2 linked regions of the Homo sapiens genome follow. The protein of the gene in region 2 purifies or fractionates together with the protein of the main gene of each other region. This does not show direct contact. Each region holds a gene or a part of one and is shown on either strand. Other genes may lie near its edges.

Evidence for each region. The genes of interacting proteins can lie anywhere in the genome.
Region 1: the proteins of CSNK2A1 (region 2) and NKAPD1 purify together in Homo sapiens (affinity purification with mass spectrometry; 5 studies listed by BioGRID and IntAct, with this or other methods). This does not show direct contact.

The regions. Positions count from the first base shown.
Region 1 is NC_000011.10:112,069,641-112,077,314, forward strand, and holds the start of NKAPD1 (uncharacterized protein NKAPD1), read left to right. Parts: upstream 1-4,658; 5' UTR 4,659-5,276; intron 5,277-5,926; 5' UTR 5,927-5,934; coding exon 5,935-6,003; exon of another isoform or gene 6,004-6,044; intron 6,045-7,674. Other genes in the region: PIH1D2 (PIH1 domain-containing protein 2), read right to left, coding at 796-1,061, 1,398-1,643, 1,995-2,118, 3,358-3,534.
Region 2 is NC_000020.11:533,775-540,798, forward strand, and holds part of CSNK2A1 (casein kinase II subunit alpha), read right to left. Parts: intron 1-7,024. UniProt on the Homo sapiens protein: Catalytic subunit of a constitutively active serine/threonine-protein kinase complex that phosphorylates a large number of substrates containing acidic residues C-terminal to the phosphorylated serine or threonine.

The sequences.
Region 1 (7,674 bases), on a different chromosome or scaffold from region 2:
GACTGAAGCTAAAGGTCGTGGAAAAAAATGGAACTGGGGAGCTAGGTAATTACAGAACTTTCTCAAGGAACCTAAGTAAGAACATCCTCTACCTCCAGAAAAGGAGCCCTCACAATGTCTGCCTACTAGGATTTCAGAATTGCTGTGCACCAGTAACTGCAGTGTGCCTCTTATTTTTCCCATTTCTGAATTGAGATGGTTAATTACGGTTATCTTCTCCCCATTCCACATTGCATGACAGATGGGACTGAGGGAGTACATAACTTTTTTTACATGTCTTAGTCCATGGTTCAAGAGGAAGAGAAAGCAAAATTCTGTCCTTTGGAGTCTGATACTGGGATTGGAGGTGTTTTCCTTCCAGAAAGAAGCAAATATTTGCAACCAAGAGTGTAGACTGGTAGACTGTAGGACTGACTCTAACTATTTGCTCTTCTGTAAGAGGATAGTACGTTTACCCTGCCATATGACTTCCTGTGACTGTGAGAATACACTTCTCAGTCCTACTGATGTAGAACTGGCCTTGTGACTTACTTTGGCCAGTGGAGCGTGAGTAGAAGTGATATCATGAAGTGTCATGTCTGAGTAGAAGTATTACGATCCACTGCATGGTTTGATCATTCTATTTTCCCTTTGCTGAGATGTGAATGGCACATCTCAGAAGGGAATTGCTCCTTCACCGGGTAACCTGAGCAAATCATTGTAAGCCCCTGAAATTATGTAGTTTGTTACTGTGGCATAATATATGTTAGTGAATGCTGGCCAATACAAATTTACAGTGTTATCTATTCAACTTACCTCAGAAACACTAAGGTCACAGAGAGAGACAGAATTAATACCAGGTAATTCAACTTTCAACTCAATTTTCAGAGGTTTCTCACTGTGATCATGCACAATTTTTAGTTCATAGGCTGGCATCTTCATCTCCACCTGGATTTCAGTACTGGAAATCTCTTCTATCAGACACACTGCTTTGCCTGAAACTTGGTCTTTTGGCAGTAACAGTTGAGGAAAGTGATCTGGATTGCTCATAGTACTGCTTCGTATCTGTCCAAGAGTTAGTTCTTTATGAAAAAAAGGGTGGAGGGGAGATAAAAAATAAATCTACAACATAAAATACTATGAGCTATAATATATGTGGTGTTAGTAGAGATGGTAGATAAAGCTGCAGTTAAATTAGTTTGGGAATCAAGCCAAAAGAATCTTAAACCAAAGAATTTGATTGAAAATTTTTCAGGATTTAAAAATCAAGGATATGATATTTCTAATATTTAATATTTGCATTTTTCTATCTTAAGTTTTTCACCTTTTAAAATAGAGATTTCTAGTTTGCAAAATGTATACAGGATCCAAAAACATCTTAAAGCAGTTTAATTTTCCATTTACAATCATCAACTTACCCCTTCTCATTTTTTCTCTTAAATCTATGGAATCAGTTTGGATTCCCATCAGATTTTGTTTCATTCTTTGAATGCTTCCTTTTATTCTAAATTTGGTAATATGGTAAGAGTGTGAGAGGGTGAACTGGAATTTCTCCTCAATGCATTTCATGGCCATCTGAATTAACTGATTTTTTTTCACTTGGTCCTTTTCTGCTGCATGAAGAACATCAGGATTGTAGGCAACATCAATGACTGTGTAAGCATCTGTGTGTGTAATTGAAAGGGTATGAAATGAAGAAAAATTGTTGCACTAATGATACTGTCAGGCAATATATTAAACCATATTCCTGATAAAGCTAGAGAATATTCCTGTATTTTTCAGAGGTAATCACAGTAGTGCTACAGCAATTATGACATTTCTTGGCACTTTTGCATGGATTAAAACAGCTCACCTTATTACAAAAGTTAAACAGTATTAAATTTGCATAAAGATACACTAATTGTAATTATATTATCAACAAATAAAGAGTTTTACTTGAAATGCTCTCAACCAAGTAAGATCTTGTCCATTCCTAATAAAATTTTTACAATGTGCTTTCTCTCAATTATTTGTACCTGATATCTCAGTTGTATCTTCTGGTTTGCCAACAGTTAGAGGTACTGGATGAGTGGTTGATTGGGGAGCTGGGATCCTTGTCCACTGACACAGGTTGATAAAAAGTATTTTTTCTTTTGGTTTCTGGAAAGCAAATAATTTTGCACATCTCAAAACCTAGTTTAAAACCATTTAAGGCCAGGCATGGTGGCTCCCGCCTGTAATCCGAGCACTTTGGGGGTCCAAGGCGGCCGGATCACCTGAGGTCAGGAATTTGAGACCAGCCTGGCCAACATGGTGAAACTCCGTTTCTACTAAAAATACAAAAATTAGCCAGGTGTGGTGGTGGATACCTGTAATCCCAGCTACTCGGGAGGCTGAGGCAGGAGAATCGCTTGAACCCAGGAGGCGGAGGTTGCAGTGAGCCAAGATTGTGCCATTGCACTCCTGCCCGGGTGACGAGAGTGAAACTCCATCTCAAAAAAAACAAAAACAAAAACATTTAAAAAATAATATCCTAAAAGCCACTCACCACAGGAATGAAAGAATTTTAGGCTCCAAGTAAGTCATTTCATGTATTAAAACTGCGTTTGATTATACTGTTGTTATTTGATTTCCCCAAGGCTGCTGGCTTTTAATTAGGAATCCAGACTGGGGTGGTGGCTCACGTATGTTACCCTAGTACTTTGAGAGGCTGAGGTAGGAGGGTTGCTTGAGGCCTAGGAGTTCGAGATTAGCCTGTGAAACATAGGGAGACCCTGTCTCTACAAAAATCATTTAAAAATTAGCCGGGTGTGGTGATGCCCACCTGTGATCCCAGCTACTTGGGAGGCTGAGGTGGGAGGATCGCTTGGGCTGCAATGAGCTGTGATTGTGAGCTGTGATTGTGCCACTGCACTCCAGCTTGAGCGACAGAGCCAGCAAGACCCTATCTCAAAAAAAAAAAAAAAAAAAAAAAAAAAAAGTCTGCCAGGCGCAGTGGCTCATGCCTGTAATCCCAGCACTTTGGGAGGCTGAGTCAGGTGGATCACCTGAAGTCAGGAGTTCAAGACCAGCCTGGCCAACATGGTGAAACCCCGCCTCTACTAATAATACAAAAATTAGCCGGGCATGGTAGTACACACCTGTAATCCCAGCTACTTGGGAGGCTGAGGCAGGAGAATCGCTTAAACCCGGGAGGCAGAGGTTGCAGCGAGCCAAGACCACACCATTGCACTCCAGCCTGGTGACAAAGTAAGACTCTGTCTCAAAAAACAAAACAAAACAAAACAAAACAAAAAAAAAACAAAAAAAATTAGCAATACCTAAGTGTAAAGTATTCTCTGGTTATTCTGGGATCATTTCATTCAAGACCTCCCCATCCCTGGCACCAACTCGACATACCAGAATCCTGGTCTGTAGACAAAGCTGTGGTTCTGGGGCAGCACAGAGCTGTTTCCCTTCTTTCAGCTGCTGCTGAATAAACTTCTCATAGCCCTCAGGGTCACTCTGAGCTAGATCATCTAGGAGGTTCCAAAACTGAGTAACTTGGGTAAGCAGACCTTTTGAGGATGTCTCCATGACTTATGAGTGGTGAATAATTTTCTTAAGCCTGTGGAAAAACACGACTTCAGGAAGAAAACTGTCTGTGTAATTATTGATTCATTTCTGCTTTGGGGAGGTGGAATGGGTCAGGAATTGTTTTGGTGAAGTTAGGACAGCATTTGTGTCTAAAAGGTTGTGGATCAGCACCACTTTATGTTTTCCTTATTCTTTAATTATCTAGTACCTCTTCCTAAATTCTCACATTGTCCTCTCAGATAAGGCCTTACTTCTATTTGGACCCTGACAAGTCAGAGTAATCATTTTAAGTCTGGGTTTCCTGATCTTCTTGTTCCAACACCTGACTGGTGGCTCCCCAGTTCTGAAATTGCCAGAGGTGTGGTGTGGGGTGAGGGCCACATAAGACTTCCTTAATCCTCAGTATAGTTTAGTATTTCAAAGCATGGACTTGTGAGCCAGAATGCCTAGATTCCGGTCTTAGTTCTATCTCTCACTAGCTCTGTGACCTTGAGCAATTAATGTTCTGTTCAAAATGAAGACGATAATACCTCTACCATAGGATTATTGCGAGATTAAGTAAGCTAATAGAGAGGCTGGGACACTTCTCTACGTCTTCAGATAAATCTCCTTAGCCTCTTCTCCCATTGGAGAGGTGTCCCACAGCATCTTTAGAATGAGGAAAAGAGGTTTAGATTCTTCAATTACTGTGTAAGGGTTATGCTAAACGGGAAACTTAACTAACGGATAATCATTCCATAGGTCTGCAAACCCACCTCTTCTCTCAGTTCTAACGGGTAATCATTCTATAGGTTGGCAAACCCACCTCTTCTCTCAGTTCCTTGACAAACCGCGACGCCTGTTACCAGGGTAACCAGCCTGGGTACAACATCTAATTGGGTCCGGGGAACTTCAGGGAGAAAAGTCTCTTCATATCTAGTTCCGGAATGTCCCCCTTCTGGTGCCAGGCTTGCTTTTCAGTTGGGCCTGACCCACTTCTCTTCCAGGAAAGCGCCCGCCTTCCTTCTGCACCCGTCAACCTCTGGAGTGTCCTGAAAACCCTCCCTTGTGGGAGTCTCTGGGCTGCCTGTTGGTGGGACGATTTCTCAGGAGCACGACTTCCGGCCTGAAAAGGAAGTCTCCTCCTTTTTCTCCCAAACCACTTCTTCCCCCCTACCCCCCGCCACGCGAGGCTGCGGCGCACGGTATGGGTGTGTTTGTGTGTATTTGTGTGGGGAGGGCGTTTGGAGGGAAGGTTACCGGGAGCTCCGAGGCCGCTGGGGAACAGGGATCCCGGTGACAAAGATGGGGATATTTCCTCTGTCTTCCACTTGGAAACCTCAACCCCCGCTTCAGGCTCCCTAGATACTTTCTGGGGCCCAACCGAAGGCCGTAGCCATCCAAAGCGTTCCCAGCCTTTCTGGGGAGTGAAACTTACCCCCGGGGTTCGTCCTAGAGGAGCGTGAGCGGGGAATGCCCAGGTCAACCGGGCTGTCCGAATTCCGCCCCGGCTCAGCCTCCGGCCTCAGTCCGGGAGAGAGATCTGCCTGTCGGTCTGGGCTGGGGGAAACGCGGCAGTGGCCTGGGCCACAGGTGAGGGCAGAGTAACCAGTGGGAAGGCTGCGTTTTCACGAAGGACTCGGGTGAAGCTGCAGAGCTGCCTTTGAGCCCTGACTCCTTGGCTTCCTGGGTCGGAGGAGATCTTGTAATGGAGTGGTTCTTCGTCTCACTAGCAAGATGCCTGATTTCCTCAGGATCAAGGGGTGAGTGAGCGTTGGGGTGGTTGCACAAAGCTCCTGCTAGCTACACACGAAAATATTCTTGTCATCTAGTTTTTGGAAGCTTCCGTAGCAAGTAGGAAATAAAATGCCCCCAAATGGAGAAATTTAGGACATCTTTGCATTTGATGTTTTGAGTAATCAGTTTCTGTTACTGTTGACACCCGTGGTTCCTGACACTCTCAAATCTACGTATTTGCTTCAGTGCAAACTATATTGGGATTGGAGGTTTGATTTTTAATTTAGACAGTGACATACATCATTTGCCTGGGACTATGTGGCTTGGGACGTTACAGCTTTAAGGGAACTTCATCTACAAAATAGGGATGGAGATACTTGCCTCATATAAAAAGTAGTTATGAGGATTAAATAAAATGGTGCTCATGAAAGCACTTAATTTTATGTAGTCTTGTGCATTTTCAAAGAACTTTAATGTACATTATCTCCTTTCATCTCACATTAGTGTGTTTAGGCATTTCCCTCTTTTAATGGTAAAGGGAAAACTATTCTTTAGAATCTCTGACTTCTAGTTCAGTGATCTTTCCTGTACCTCATATGCTTCTTTATAAAACTTCAAGAAAAGATAAAGTAATAACAGAAATTATTACTAAACGTTATTTGTTGATTCATTTCAGATTGAAGAATGTCCCGGATTCCACTGGGGAAGGTCCTCCTGAGGAATGTCATCCGGCACACAGATGCTCACAATAAGGTGGGAGGTACAACCTAGTTACTCCTCAACGCTTACTGAAGGCAAGCAGTGTGCCAAGCATTATTTTGGAACAACTGGGAGATACAAAGAATATTCTTGTCATCTAGTTTTTGGAAGCTTCCGTACACAGTAGGAAATAAAATGATGAATAAAATAGATAATTATAATACAGTTTGATAAGTACTGTATAACAGAGATATTTGCAAAGTGCTTTGGAGCACTAAGGAGGAAATAATAAAATCTACACTGGGGAATTAGAAAAGATTTTACAGAATTAGTGGTATTTCAGCTGCTGATCTTTGAACTGGTTCTTGAATAGGTATACGTTTACCAGGTATGAAATATCATTCTGGATAGACAGCATCATGCATTAATATGGCAACGAGAAAGAGCATTAATCACTTGGGGCATGGCAAGAAATTTATCCAGAAAGCAGGGAAGGTAGGGGATAGTGGCAGAAGATAAGGCCTCAGTGGTAATTAGAGTTGGATTGTGATGTTTGGAGCTGAGACTTCTTCCTCTAGGCAATAAAGAAGCCATCAAATGTTTTTAAACAGGGTGTGGCATGATCATAGTTATATTTTAGAAAGATGGTTTGTCAGCTGGGTAGGGAATGAATCAGATGGGGAGATACAGAAGGGAGAGTAATTAGGAGGCAATTGCAGTATTACAGGTGAGAGATGATGAGGGTTCGCATGAAATTAGTGACAGCAGGGATGAAGAAGAGGAATTTAGGAGATAGAATCCAAAGAAGTTGGTGGCTAATTAGATTATAATGATAAGAATGGAATCTAATTCAGTTGACCCTTGAACAATGCAGGGGCTAGGGGCATCAACCCCCTGCATAGTCGAAAATCCATGTATAACTTTTTACTCCCTCAAAATGTAAGTGCCAATAGCCTACTACTGACTGAAAGCCATAGCGATACCATAAACAGTGGATTAACACATATTTTTTATGTTACATGTATTATATACTGTATTCTTATAGTAAAGTAGCTAGAGAAAACAACATTTCATTAAGAAAATCACATTGAGTAGGCTGAGGAGGAAGAAGAGGGACTTGTTTTGCTATCTTACAGGTGGCAGAGGTGGAAGAAAATCTGAGGATAAGTGGACCTGCACAGTTGAGATTCCTGTTGTTCAAGGTCAACTGTGTAACCACCTATGTGACTGGGTAGATGATGACAATTCTGTTAATTGAGATAAAGAACAAAAAATGGGACAATTATGATAGGAAAGGTAATTAGTTTGGTTTTCAACATGTTGATGGTGAGGTGCTTATAGGATGTCCAAGCAGTTGAAAATTCAGACTTGGAGTAGAGGAGAAAAGTTGGGGCTGGACATAAAGGTTTCGGGATTATTGATGTATAGGTTGATGATAAGAGGTCATGAGAGTAGATGAGGTCACCTAGGAGAGCACATATAATGAAAAGAGGGCCAAGGCCCCTGGTTTAGTTTTCTTCAGTAAACTGTACTACTTTTGGTTTGATCATATTATTATTATCATATCACCTGATTTTTAAAATTATGGGCGAGGGTAAAACTGTTACCCGAGCTGCCTATGCAATTATGTTAACCTGCCCCTAGTTATATAGTAAGCTTAGATTTAAAATGGTAGCTAGAAAAAGATAAATCTAGCACAGATCTAATGAAATTATGCAGGAAGAC
Region 2 (7,024 bases):
ATAAATGACATAGCAACAGTGTGAGGTCTCCCAATGAAGGGAGGTATTAGAAGAAAATCCAAGCAGTTTGATTTGGATTAATAGTTCTACCCCAAACACCTAAGAGAAATCGGAATTCCAGTACTGTCTCTTACAATATAGTCATCATCTATACACCTTTTTACCACGCCATATAAGCAAAATAAAGTCACAATGTGAAACTTTACTCCACTGGCTATTACCCTCTGGAACCAAAAGATGGAAAACTTCATTTGGGATATACAGTAATCTAAAGAAAAATTCAGCACTTATGAATGTAATAACTACTGTTACCATTTGAATGCCTCTTACAAACCAGGCACAGTATCAGATGCATATTCTGATTTTAGAAATAAACAGATTCAGAGGTTAAATAATCTGCCAAAAACAACAGGATTACTAAGTGGTGGAAGCCAGATCTGTTTAGGATCCAAAGCCTAAATAGGTTCTTTTCACTAAATTTAATACTATTTCCTTAGTTCTCCAAACTGATTTATTAACAGCCTATCCAAAACACTATAATAAAATGAACTGCTTTAAATTTGGAGGCAAGGTAGGGGTGGGATACTGAGTTTCAATAATCAGGTTTCTTCATTATTCTTTTACCTGAATGGGCTGGCCACCAGGCCACAATTGTATAAAAATCAGATTTTAAATGATGGAAAAGCTTTTCTGTGTGGCTACTGAAGGGAGAAAGGAAGACAACTGAGACATGCCCCACCTTGCTGGCTGGGGGCTGGTGACATCTGTGGGCCTCAGTGTTGGACTCCAGATGCAACAAAGCCTAAAGTTTTGAATATGTATGAAGGTCAATGTGATGTTTTCCAAAAACAGTCATAAAAGATGGCTGTGAAAAACCCCCTAGTATAACAACTGTATGTAACAAGAGCATATAGGTAGCTGCAGATGAATGCTCAGGTCCTTAGCTGTGGTGTTTAAAAATTCTTCAGACCAGGCTGGGTGCAGTGGCTCACACCTGCAATCCCAGCACTTTGGGAGGCCGAGATGGGTGGATTGCCTGAGCTCAGGTGTTAGAGACCAGCCTGGGAAACACAGTGAAACCCCATCTCTACTAAAATACAAAAAAAAAAAAAAGCCAGGCGTGGCAGCGTGCGCCTGTAGTCCCAGCTACTTGGGAGGCTGAGGCAGGAGAATTGCTTGAACCCGGGAGGTGGAGGTTGCAGTGAGCCAAGGTCGTGCCACTGCACTCCAGCCTGGCAACAGAGTGAGATGCTATCTCCCAAAAAAAAAAAAAAAAAAAAAAAAAAAAAAAATTTCTTCGGACCAGTGTGGTGGCTCATGAGTGTAATCTCAGCACTTTGGGAGGCTGAGTTAAGAGGACTGCTTGAGCCCAGGAGTTTGAGACCAGCCTGGGCAACATGGTGAGACCTTGTCTCTACAAAAAAAATTAACAACTACCCACAAAGAAAACCCTAGCTCAAGATGGCTTCACTGGAAGGAAAAATGAACTGGTCAGGAAGACAGACAAATAGAAGCAAATAATGAAAGCATTTTATTTGACATTGATAACCTTCTCACAATAAATTATGTGGCAAAATACATGCTTGAATACTTAATTGCTAGGCAATAGTCTATTTTCATTTTTTCACAAAAGGTAGACAACTCCAAAGCAGATGGCCATTTGTAGCCATTCTATATAATCATAAATACACAAAACACTGGCCGGGCGCGGTGGCTCACGCCTGTAACCCCAGCACTTTGGGAGGCTGAGGCGGGTGGATCACCTGAGGTCAGGAGTTTGAGGCCAGCGTGGCCAACATGGCGACACCCCGCCTCTACTAAAAATACAAAAATTAGCCCGGTGGGGTGGCATGCACCTGTAATCCCAGTTACTTAGGAGGCTGAGAGAGGAGAATCACTTGAACCCAGGAGGCAGAGATTGCGCCACTGCACTCCAGCTTGGGCGACAGAGCAAGACTCCATCTCAAAAAAAAAAAAAAAAAAAGTTTTAAAGTGCCGATAAATACAAGTTCCTGGTCTGCCTACAGTTTATCACTTAATAATACAAAGCAAACAAGAAAGCAAGTTAGTGGATTACCTGAGAGAGCAAGACATAGAGAAGATGTTAATGCAGGGAGCTGGCCTTCTCCAAACATATCCCTAACACACAATATTCAAGCAATTCCCAAACTGTGATCAGAGAACCACTGGGAGTAAGACCTCTGATCTATATTTACAAGTCTATAGGTGAGCAAAGGTAGACCTTTTCCTGAGTCTGAGATGGGAATATTACCTTCTCTATCTAGAAGCAAAAGAATCCTAGACTCACCAGGACTAGGTAATAGACACTGTACACGAGTAATTGAGGTAATCTACACTGGGCGTGACTTACATACTGATCCACCCCTAGGCAGCAATTCATACCTCACCCACCCAACAGGCTACATTAGAAACAAGGAAGTACAGGTCAAAAGTCTCATTAAAAAAATAAGAACTCTTGGCAGCAGAAAATGAAAATAAAGAATGAAGAATGACAGCACTGGCAATAAACACATTCTTTTCTCCGAAAGGGAAGGGAAAGAACTAATGTTGGGCACCCACATGCCAGACATTTTATCAATTTTCTCCTTTAATCCTCAATAATCCTGAGATAATACTAGCTAGTACTCTAGTTATTAATCCTCACAAAAATCCTGAGGTAGGTACTACTAATTCCCATGTTACAGGTGAAGAAACCAAAAGTTAGTAAGTTGCCCAAGGTAGTTGTTATCCGAACTGTAGAGACAAGAACTCCCAGACTTGAAGAGGTTAAGTAAACTTCCCCAAACTCAAAGTGGGAGTTCTTTCCCACTAACCTATTGCCTTCCCCTCCCTACCCGCAATCTCAATTAATTCTCTATTCTACCCCCTTCTCATTTCTGCAGCTGTTTCAAAAACTACACCTAAGATACAAAGCAAATAGGAGTTATTATAAGAAAACACCTCCAAAATCTACTAAGTTGTGGTATGATATGCCTGTTATCAGAAAACGTCACTCAATTTTGAGCTTGGAGGGCAGTGACAGTTTGGAGATCTTTAGCACAACGCCTGCCAGAAACGTGGCAGGCGCTCAGGATCTGCTGAATGAACAACATCTTCTGAGTGGTTATGAATTCAATAACCCAAAATGACCATCTCGTATTTCTGGATATGACATGATACCATTTTTTGGAAAATAATTTACCCATTCATTTTAAACAGGGTAGCTTTCTTAAAATTTATAGAACATTGATGAGATAGCTAAACTGAGAAATGCCCATTAAAGCATTAGTCATAACTTCAGGAAAATTTCAAATGTTCACTTTTCCAAGCAAATTAAAATGTTTCAGCTAATAAAAACCTGTCAGAAAAACCCACAAGACAAGAAAGTATAAAAAGAAAAGAGCAGCCAATATAAGGGCATTTAAGATGTCACACATAAAAAATTATAAAACATTAATCTAACTTGTACCTTGGTATTTAACCCTAAAACTGTCACCTCAGATAACACAATATTTTCTATGCAAGAAAACATTATCACCACGAATGTAAAGAAGCTTGCCGACCATAGCAACTGTTGCTACGTAGGGTTTTTTAATGTCTAAGACTGAAAGACAGAATTTGTAGAAACCAGTTAAAATGCCACTCTTAGCAGTATCTTGTGATACTGTGAATGCTTTCACCTTAAACTTTTTAAAAGACTCAATCTTTGACTTCTACATGTGAAAAAAAAAAAGTACATCTGGGAGCACTCAACGTAAGAAAACTACCAATTGTCTATAACCCAATGAAAATACATCCTTTGTTACAATGACAGCAGCTACTTTTCCTTAATAATCCTAGAGGAATTTCTTCATTTGAAAAGCTGGCTGGCCTAGATTTCTCTATAAACTAAATGACATGCTACTTTCGAAATTATCCATTTCAGAAGTTCAAAGAAATTCAGGTATAAGAACACATTAATACTCTCATGAAACAAACCTTATCCAGGTTACCCACGAATTGTGACAGATCAAAACCCAGTTTCTCATTTCAAATCAAGTATCACATTATTTATTACCTTAAAATACTAAGCCCTTACCTAATTCAATGGCAAATCATATTGGTTTTCAGTTTCTGAACTTGTACAAATCATACTGTAATATTTATGCAAAAGTTGTCATATAGTTGAATATTATAGACAGTTAACATCTTTTTTTTTTTTTTTTGAGACGGAGTCTTGCTCTGTCCCCCAGGCTGGAGTGCAGTGGCGTGATCTTGACTCACTGCAACCAACCTCCGTCTCCCAGGTTCAAGTGATTCTCAGCCTCCTGAGTAGCTGGGACCACAGGCACGCACCTCCACACTCAGCTAATTTTAGTAGAGATGGGGTTTTACCATGTTGGCCAGGCTGGTCTTGTCCTGACCTCAAGTCATCTGCCCACCTCGGCCTCTCAAAGAACTGGGATTACAGGTGTGAGCCACCATGCCCGGCCAACAGTAGAAAAGGGTACTCAGGGAACATAGTTCAAAAGTCATGATTCTCTATTGGCTGGACCAGGATTCTAGACTAGCTCTAGGGCTGAGATATCTTAGTAGACCAGTTAACATTCATGTGGCCCAATTTCCCTTACTCTAAACCCAAAGTCAAACATAACCTCTAAAGTCTTTCATACCCTGAAATGCTAATCTTGTAATCATCTTTCTATTCAGGTAATAACTCAAAAGAAATGGTCTCACTTCCTTCATCCTCTGACTAAAGTTTAGTTAGTCCATATTTTATGAATCCAATTAATAGGATACTTTAAAGAACAAAAAGAAAAGACTTTTCTTAAAAGCTAGAAACTCCATTCTGTAGTGATGATTCCCAGATCTGACTCTTAAACTCAACAACCTCAACAGACAATGACAGGGAGAAAAGATCTTACAAGTTTGAGCTGAGCTGGGGTGGGGTGGGAGGTGTGAGAGAACAGAGAGACAGTTACAAATTCACAAAAATGTATCACCCATTTCCATCTCCTCTAAAAAAATATGAAATAAGCCTTAAAAGGCTGTCATAGAAACCCATTATTAAGCCAATAAAAACTAATGAAGAAATTATGTCATTTATCCAAGATATGGAAGAACCACCTATTTACAGAAATCCTACCAATGTCCTAGACCTTCAGAAACTACATCTCACTAAGCTGACCATCAAGCCCCTTCAAACTGCATCTAAGGACAATAATAATATTCAAACATCAAGAAACAGGCACAGGTTCCACTCAACACCATTATTCCGTGGAGTCTTCCAGGACTAAATTGTTTTATAGAATCTTTGCTATCTTTGTTCTCTAGAAAATGATATCCCAAAGACTCTAAAATAAAACCAGCAAAACCCCTGTATTTGTTTTCCATTGTGTCATAACAAATTATCACAAACAAAACAACACAAATGGATTATCTTACAGAAGTCAGTGGGCTTGACTGGGTCTCACAAGGGCTAAATGAGGGTATCCAGTGGGTGGGTTCCCTGCTGGAAACTCTGGGGAAAATTTGCTTCCACATTCATTCAAGCTATTGGCTGAATTTAGTTCCTTGCAGCTGTAGGACTGAGTTCCCACTTCCTTGCTGGTTGTCAGCTGGGACTGGCCTTTCCTACTAGAGGCTGCCTGCATTCCCCGTCTCACACTTTCAATCTGGTCCCCTCCAGTAACGGCAGGCTGAGTCCTTCTCATGCTTCAAATTTGACTTCCCCTTCTGCCTCATCTCTGACACCAGCCAGAAAAAGTTCTCTGCTTTTAAGTGCTTATGTGAGTAGAATAAACCCACCCAGAAAATCCAAGATAATCTACCTAAGATCCTTAACTTTAATTAAATCTACTTAACATATTCATGTTCCAGGGTTTATAGTATGGAAATCGTAGGGGAGCCATTCTGCTTACCGCAGTCTGCCTTCTGGTTTCCAAGGATTCATCTCTCTCTCAAATGCAAAATACATCCATCCCATCCCAAGGTCCCAAAGGTTTCCCATCTAAAGCTTATCATTTCAGAAGTCCCAAATCTCATTCATCTATTCAGGTGTGGATGAGGTTCTGGGGACAAAACAGTAAGTCCAATTCCTGGGGCACAATTCCTAAAGAAACAAGTTCTCTACTCCCAACATACCACTGTGAGACATGTAGAGAATAACAGTTAGACATTCCAGTTCAAATGGGCAAAATGTAAAAGAAAACAGAGCCTCCGGTCCAAAGCAGTTTCAAAATCTAGGGAATCTCCATTCCATTTCAAAGCCTGGGAAAAATCCTCTCCAGCTTTTAGCTCCACCCCTCTGGGCTCTCCTATCTCCGTCTGAGTCACCCTGATTCTTTTATGAAAAGCAACACATTCACATGTGAGTAGTTTTATCAGCCTGCTTCCTATCAGTAGAATTTGGGGGGTCCAACAGCCCTATTACTTTCTGTCTCTTTCAATCCAAACTAGAACTGTTTATGTTGGCATAAAATTCTCAAGAACCTAATGGGCTGTGGAAGTATTCCACATGGGTCCACTCCATTAAAGTTCACATTCACAAATAAACCAGGCTGCACATTTAATACTTTGCTTGGAAATCTCAGCTAAATATACAAGTTCATCACTTGCAAATTTGGCTTTCCATATAACCATAGGATACAATTCTGCTAAACTTAGTTGCTACTATGTAACAAGGATCCCCTTTCTGCCAGTTTCCAATAAGAAAGACCTCACTTCTGTCTGGGCCCTCACTAGCAGAGTCATTAACATCCATATTGCTACTAAAAGTATGTCCTAGGCCTTTTCTTTTTTGACAGGGTCTCACTCTGCCACCCAGGCTGGAGTGCAGTGGTGCCATTACCGCTCACTGCAGCCTTGACTTCCTGGGCTCAAGCGATCCTCCTGTGTTCCAGGCCTTTTCTATCATGCCCCTCAAAACAATTCTAACCTTTATCTACTGCCACTTTCATTTTTAGGTAATAGTACCCCACTCCTGGTACCAAAATCTATACTAGTGTTCTACTGCTGCCATAACAAATTACCACAAATGTAGTAG